Homo sapiens: one gene and its partner. The protein of the gene in region 1 interacts with the protein of each later gene in a biochemical or structural test. Each region holds a gene or a part of one and is shown on either strand. Other genes may lie near its edges. The genes, in order: VAPA and ZFYVE27.

What was found.
Region 2: the proteins of VAPA (region 1) and ZFYVE27 form a complex in vitro, tested with the Homo sapiens proteins (one study listed by IntAct).

The regions. Positions count from the first base shown.
Region 1 is NC_000018.10:9,930,794-9,934,614, forward strand, and holds part of VAPA (vesicle-associated membrane protein-associated protein A), read left to right. Parts: intron 1-1,016; coding exon 1,017-1,169; intron 1,170-3,821. UniProt on the Homo sapiens protein: Endoplasmic reticulum (ER)-anchored protein that mediates the formation of contact sites between the ER and endosomes via interaction with FFAT motif-containing proteins such as STARD3 or WDR44.
Region 2 is NC_000010.11:97,746,861-97,750,681, forward strand, and holds part of ZFYVE27 (protrudin), read left to right. Parts: intron 1-1,408; coding exon 1,409-1,504; intron 1,505-2,613; coding exon 2,614-2,726; intron 2,727-3,470; coding exon 3,471-3,610; intron 3,611-3,821. UniProt on the Homo sapiens protein: Key regulator of RAB11-dependent vesicular trafficking during neurite extension through polarized membrane transport. Promotes axonal elongation and contributes to the establishment of neuronal cell polarity.

The DNA of each region.
Region 1 (3,821 bases):
TTTTTATCTCCTTCCTCTCATCCTAGTTCCAAATTTTTATTTATTAGAAAATATTTTACTACTAACAAACTTTAAGCATAGCATAAAATCATTTTGCTTCTTAGGGCTTGAAATAAGTGTCTTTTAATGACTTTGTAAAATTTTAAAAGACATGCTTATTCTTAAGATTGAAATAAAGAAAAGAGAGCCTTTATAATAGTTGTCTTTGATTCCAGCCTTCTAGCTTTTTTAAAAAATACATAACTTTAAACGAATTGTTTTTAGAACGATTTAAAATTACTTTTGGAATACTTAGAACTGTGGTTATTGTTCCCAACTGGAACATGTTTTTATGTTCTTCCTCCAAATTAACAGGTATTTATTTTGTTGTCTAAATTAATCTGCATAATTTTTCTTCAGGCTTTTCTTCAGCAAAATGGATCAGCCTTTTGGGTTCTTTGTTTTGTAATTTTATGTTGTTTGGGTGCAGAACCAAAGCTTAAAAACTTTGTATCTAGAGCATATGGCATAATAAACACTTAACAAATATGTGAATGAATGAATGGATTGAATGAATGAACAAACAAAATTGAGGTGAAGCAAAAGCACTGATGTCATAGGGTGTAGGGTCTTCAGATGTAGAGATTTTTGCAGTTGGCCTAGTAAAATGAACTTGAAGATTGACACTGGTTTGCAGACAACTGGGAAATTCTGTTATTTTCAGCAACGTATTAACAACATACTGTAAAAATACAGTTGTAAAGTTCATAGATCCAAAGTTTCATAGTACTTTTTTGATAGAAATCATACATGTTTATGGTAGAAATTTTGTGAAATACAGGGAATGAAGAAGAAAATATGACTTGTTTTTAAGTCTGCCACCTCGAGAAAGGCAGTGTTAGTAGCCATTTGGGATATTTATGCCTACAAATGTCAGCACTTAATTAAAATTGAGGTTATATATTTTCAGTTTTGAATCCTTCGTTGTTGAGAATCCAATTAAATTTTGTTTTCTCTTTAATTTTTAAACTTTACAGGCCCCTTCACAGATGTAGTCACTACAAATCTTAAATTGCGAAATCCATCGGATAGAAAAGTGTGTTTCAAAGTGAAGACTACAGCACCTCGCCGGTACTGTGTGAGGCCCAACAGTGGAATTATTGACCCAGGGTCAACTGTGACTGTTTCAGGTAGCAAATCATGTTCTGAATTTATGTACATTTGAATTTTGACCTTTTATGATTATGTTTTTGTTTAATAAGGTTTCATCTGGAGGGAGGGAAATAATTCTTATATTATTCTGGTTTTGCCTTTAAAGATGTCTTGTTACAGTACTCTGCAAGCTGTTTCAGAAAATTTCTCACTCATCTTCTGTGTAGGGAGTGTGGTCAGTTTATAAGAAATTATTGTCAATTACAAACTTTAGTCTTTATTTCTACAGCTAACCACTACCTTCTCTGCCTTTGTTATTTTATCTTTGAAAAATTATATCATTTTTCTGATGGGTCATTCTCCTTCAGATCATGATCATATTACACATTGCATGCAGCTATAGAAGTGTCATAATTCTTTTGCTTAAAAAGGTGCAATGCCACTTTTTTGCCTACTGTGTCAAATCAGATGAGTCTTTATGCCTTTCATTGTAAATGTCAACAGTGTCCTGTGTGTGAAAACTTTATTTTTATTTTACTACTCTCTTATGTGTTTACTTGTCAAAGAAGTATGCTTGCCATATATGGATTACTTACTCCTGCTGTGGAGTTGATACTGGTACCATATCTAATGCCCCCTATAAACTGTTTCTTTCTTTCTCAGTCCCTCTGACTTCACTAATATAGCTGAGAAATAGGAAATAGGAAGTAAATATGAGAACTTTTATGGTTCCATGTATTTTACTTAGGGGAGAACCTCTCAGGCTGCATTTACTCTTTCTTTACAGCAGTACTTCTCAACTCCCACTATATGCTGTAATAACACAGGGAGCAGGAACACACATGGATTCATCTCTCCCAGATTGGAATCTCTAGGAGCATGACTTAGAAATGTTACATTTAGGCCGGGCGCGGTGGCTTATGCCTGTAATCCCAGCACTTTGGGAGGCCGAGGCGGGTGGATCACGACGTCAGGAGTTCAAGACCAGCCTGGCCAAGATGGTGAAACCCCATCTCTACTAAAAATACAAAAAATTAGTCGGGTGTGGTGGTGGGCGCCTGTAGTCCCAGCTACTTGGGAGGCTGAGGCAGAGAATTGCTTAAAACCAGGAAGTGGAGGTTGCAGTGAGCGGAGACTGCACGAGTAAGACTCCGTCTCAAAACAAACAAACAAAAAAAGTGTACCTTAAAAAAAAAAAAAGCCTGGGTGATCTTGATAAGTAATCCTAAGATATTATAATAATTCTGTATCAGTTTTCAAGTCCACAGCAGAATTGGGTACAGAGAGAGAGAACCCAGGGTAGGCTCATTGAGAGAGTATTTAGAGGTGGAGCCTGACTACAAAGGCCATGAAGGACAGACCATAGAGTTCTTGGTGACACTAAATCTTCCCTCAGCAGGTATAGCCAAAAACCTCAAGAGCTAGGAAAAAGATGTTTTAGTGAGTCTTGCGGTAAGGAGGCCTGGGAGGAGTGCTTTTCATGTTTCTTTGCTAAGTCTAATTCATCAGTTCCTGGGAAAGAGAGATGGGAAATAAAGATGAAGGAATGCATGCACTCTGCATGTTGCTGCTTTCTACTACATCTTTAAGCCTTTAGCACAATTGGAAGAAGAGAGAATTCTTTCTTTTTTGAGACAGTGTCTTGCTTTGTTGCCCAGGTAGGAGAGCAGTGGTGTGATCTCAGGTGACTGCAACTTCCGCCTCCTGGATTCAAGTGATTTTCCTGCCTCAGCCACTTGAGTAGCTAGGATTACGGGCGTGTGCCAACATGCCTGGCTCATTTTTGTATTTTTAGTAGAGGCAGGGTTTCACCATGTTGGCCAGGCTGGTCTCGAACTCCTGACCTCAAGTGATCCATCTACCTTAGCCTCCCCAAATGCTGGGATTACAGGCGTGAGCCACTGCGCCTGGCCAGAAGATATAATTATTTCAATCCACATGGCTAAAAATAGTTTATTGGTACAAACAGTTATATCCCTAGGAATCCATACAACTATGCAGAATGACTTTTTCTTTGAGGGGCCTAGATTGCTGGTTTCTGTGTATTAATATTTCTTGAGAAAACAACGTATCAAAACACTTTCTCCCACAGAAACCTGACTTATTAAAACCTTCAGACAAACTGGTTACTGATTACGCAAACATGCCCTTGGATTGTTCTACTTAATTAGAATTTGGCTTTTCCAGTTTTTAGTGTAGTGTATTTCCATTTACAGTCACTCAAAGCTATGCTTCTTCCAACAACCTTCTCTGGTTAATTCTCTGTACTACATGCTCATTTCTCTTTTTCCCTGTGTCCTTTTGACGCTTTGTTTTTTGAATTTGCTTCAATTTGTGCACATTTTTATATATGTTTTCAAGATCGTCTTTGTCTTGTTATGTGGTCTGCAACCTAAATTAGAGTATAACTCCTATAAACTTAACCATGTTGTAAGTTTTCGTTTTATTCACAAATTTTTGGTTCATAGTGATTAGCTTATAATCATTAACTCAGTGAAGGTTGCTAATGGAATTTTATTTAGCTTAAGCTGTATTCTGAGGCATTTTATCCAGTACATTTCCTGCTGCTGTGTATTTGGCCCCTTGAAAAAGTTGTCTTAACCTTGATAGCAGTTAATGGACTTCTCAGACACACCTTATGAATAAGACTTTATTACATAATTATTTCTTACATTTATTTACCCGTGTTT
Region 2 (3,821 bases), on another chromosome or scaffold:
ACAATTTTTTTGTAGAGATAGGGTCTCATTGTCTTGCCCAGGCTGGCCTTGAATTCCTGGGCTCTAGCAATCCTCCTGCTTCAGCCTCCCAAAGTGCTGGGACTACAGGTGTGAGCCAGTGTGGGTGTCCTAATAAAGTTCTTTGTATCAGTTTCCCTGATCTGGGATCCAATTCAGGATTATACATCATGTTTAATTTTTTTATGTCTCTTTAGTCTTCTTTAATCTGGAGCAGTTCCTCAGTCCTTGTTTCTTGTGACCTTGACATTTTTGAATAGTACAAGCTTATTATTTTGTAGAATCTCCCTAATTTTTGGATTGTTTGGTTCCTTGTGATCAGATTTAGAGTGTGACAAGTGATGTGTCATGTTCAGTACATCCGTATCAGGAGGCACCTGATGTCAGGAAATACTGACTTTGATCACTTGGTTAAGGCATCCATACTGTAAATTATCATTTTACTCTTCATTAGTAGTAATTTGAGGGGAGATACTTTGAGACTATGTAAATATCTTGTTCCTCATCAAACATTTATCCACTGCTTTAAAAATCCATTGATGGGTCTTGCCTTAATCAGTTTATTACTATGATGGTTGCAAAGATGATCTTCTAATTATTCTATCGACATTTTTTTAGCTGGCTTTCTACTATAAGGAAGCTCTTTCTTACTATTATCAGTATGAACTCATAGATTTATATTTTATTTGATGAGTTAGAATCTATTACTATCATTATTTATTTTGATCTCAAATTGTCCTAGATTTGGCCAGTAGGAGCTCTTTTGAGTTGGCTCTTGTTTGCATTGGTCCCTGTCATTTTTGAATGCTTCCTTTATGGTACAACAGGATGGTCAAATTCATCTTATACTTCCCTGCCCCAGCCCTGGAATCAGCTTATCTCCATGTTTCCTGGTTTCCCTTCAGAAACCCAGATCTGGGTTCAGATTGTGCTCATGGCTTCTGTGGTTCATCCATGTTTAAAAAAACAACAACCAGAACTCCCCAAGTGAGTCTGTTTCACATCCCAGGTAGAGAATATCATGCCATTTATTCTGACAGCTGCTGTGTACCCGTGAGGTGGGTCCTCTGATCCTCATTTTATAGATAAAGAAGCCACAGCCCTGGAGAATTTCAGTAGCCTGCCTGACATCAACAGTTAGAAGACCAAAGCAGGAACATTTATACTGTTTCCACCTCAGCAAGAGGCTCCAAAAAGGGGACTGAAATGTAGCTGGGGTGGCTTAGCCAGGCCTGTTTCTCCCATGCTCTCTCGACTCCTCTCTCTTTAAGCACATGGTGAGTGTGTTTAAAGAGATTGACCATCCCTAGCCAACTGTACCTGCAAGGCCCCAGGCTCCACTTCCCAGGGCTTCTGTCCTGCCCACTCACCAAAGCCCCTGTGTCTGTAGCTTGATCCAGCTGGAGGCCTTCCTGAGCCGCCTGTGCTGCACATGTGAAGCCGCCTACCGCGTGCTGCACTGGGAGAACCCCGTCGTGTCCTCACAGTGAGTGACCCCTCCTCTCCCGCCACCACCCTATAGGAATTTGCAGCTTGAGCCCGAGCAAAGCCAGCTGCCTTGAGAGGACCTCTGCCCCTCTTACCTCAGGGGAAGAGCTCGCCTCCTGGGCTCTTGTGTGTATATCTGCACATATGCTTGCGGGCTCTAATGTACTGCTTTTGTTTAGATGCTTGCTTTTATGTGTGGTAAAAATAATAATAGAAAAATAACTCACCATATAATCCACCATGCAGCCGAATCTCTTGTTTGTTTTGCCTGCTAGAATTTGTCACATGCATCTACTTTACGGATGTATAGTTTCATAGTGTATGTTCAATTTTTCTTTTGTTTTCCACTTATCATTATATTAAAGATGATTTTCTTTGTTGCTATATAGCTTTTGGAATTATTTATAATACCAGATTAATATAGATGGCAAATATAATTTGTGAAACCATTCTGTTACAGATTTAGTCAATTTCCCTTTTCATTACTAACCCCATGGTAAACATTTTTATGGATTTAGCTTTAATGTTTTAGAAAATTTTTCTTGGAGTAAATTCAAGGATGAAACTACCATATCAAACAGAATGGGTGTTTTTGAGGCTCTTTAATATGAATAATAGTGATAACTAATGTTTGTTGTGTTCACCTGGTGCCAGGCACTGCTCAACACTCCCTCTGTATTATCTCACTCTTATAGTAACTCTATTAGGTAGGCGCTACTTCAGTCCCCATCTTACACGGGAAGGGAGCTGTGCCCAGAGAACCAAGAGACTTCTCAGAATGAGAAGTGGCAGAGCTGGATTCAAATCCCAGTCTGTCTTACTCTAGACTTCAGAGTCTAGACCTTAAGGAGTGATGATGGTTGAACCAGTTTATGTGCCACCAGCTGACACCACTTTGGCCTCACCAGCATCAGGTGTTTGCACCGGTGACTTGGGATAGTTCTCAGTCTTCATCGCCATTTTCCGCTGGTTTGATGAGCGGCTCTTGTCAGTTTATTAATGTGCCCAGAGCTGTGTCTCACCTGGACCCTGCTGTGGGTGTGCTCCAAACCCGTCTCCTTCTGCTGTTACGAATTTCTGATCTTGTGGTTCTTCCCTGTCATCCAGGTTCTATGGGGCTCTTCTGGGCACAGTCTGCATGCTGTATTTGCTGCCACTCTGCTGGGTTCTCACCCTTTTAAACAGCACGCTCTTTCTGGGGAATGTGGAGTTCTTCCGAGGTAAGCCCTGAAGGGCCTGAAAGATGGGGCCCAAGCTGGCTCTGAGGGCTAGGCTAGGCTCCCCAGTTCTTCTGTCTCTACAGCTAATCATCAGTTTGCTGTGCTTCCACAAGTGCAACACCACACTGGGGTCCTCTCTCATGGGCTCTGCATCTCTGAGATGTTAGATGAAGCTGGAATCTCACCAGGGGAGGCTGCTACCATTGGGCTCCCATCTCCCTTCGCTCCCTTCCCAAGGCAGATGAATCACTGCTTATATGATATGATGGCTTCTGGAAGATGAGGGAAGGATGTTTTTCCCAAAGCTGCCACCCATCCCCTGGGGTGCAGCCACCTGGAGTTGCTACCACATCTCTGTGTGATCCCAGAATACCCCTCTGTTGTCTGGCTTCTAAAGCGCTGAGGCAGTCTGGAGAGGCACTGAGTCGCAGAGGCCCGAGTCTGTACATATGTTTGGGTGATTGCTGTATTTGTTTTCCTCCCTGTGGTAGAGTTATTTATTACAGAAGCCATGATTTATTGAGCATTTACTACATTTAATCTCTGTAGCTGTCTGGGGCAGGTGGTGGTATCTAAGTTTTGTTTAAGAGGCTTAAGTTAGGTGACTCGCTCAGAGTTAGGAGGGTGACTCTTTCCTGTAGTGAAGGGAAGAGAGGCCAGCCAGCTGCAGAAGTGGGTACCCCTAAAGTGCCACTCACGGTGTCTCATTTTTGCCTCCTACCTTGTTCTCCATTCCCTGGGTAGTTGTGTCTGAGTACAGGGCATCTCTGCAGCAGAGGATGAACCCAAAGCAGGAAGAGCATGCCTTTGAGAGTCCTCCACCACCAGATGTTGGGGGGAAGGATGGTCTGATGGACAGCACGCCTGCCCTCACACCCACGGAGGTAAGTGCCACTGTCAGGGCAGAGCCTGCTGTGGCCGCTTGTGGGCCCCCCTGTTATCAGCTTGTTTTTGGCTCCTGGGCTGGCCTCTGTTGTAGTTCCTGCTATTTCCCAGGCCTTAACTCCCCTGAAGTGTTCAATAATAATAATTGTAATAAAAACAGCTACTCCATGCTTCACTGAGTGCTTACCCTGTGTCAGATGCTGCTCCAAG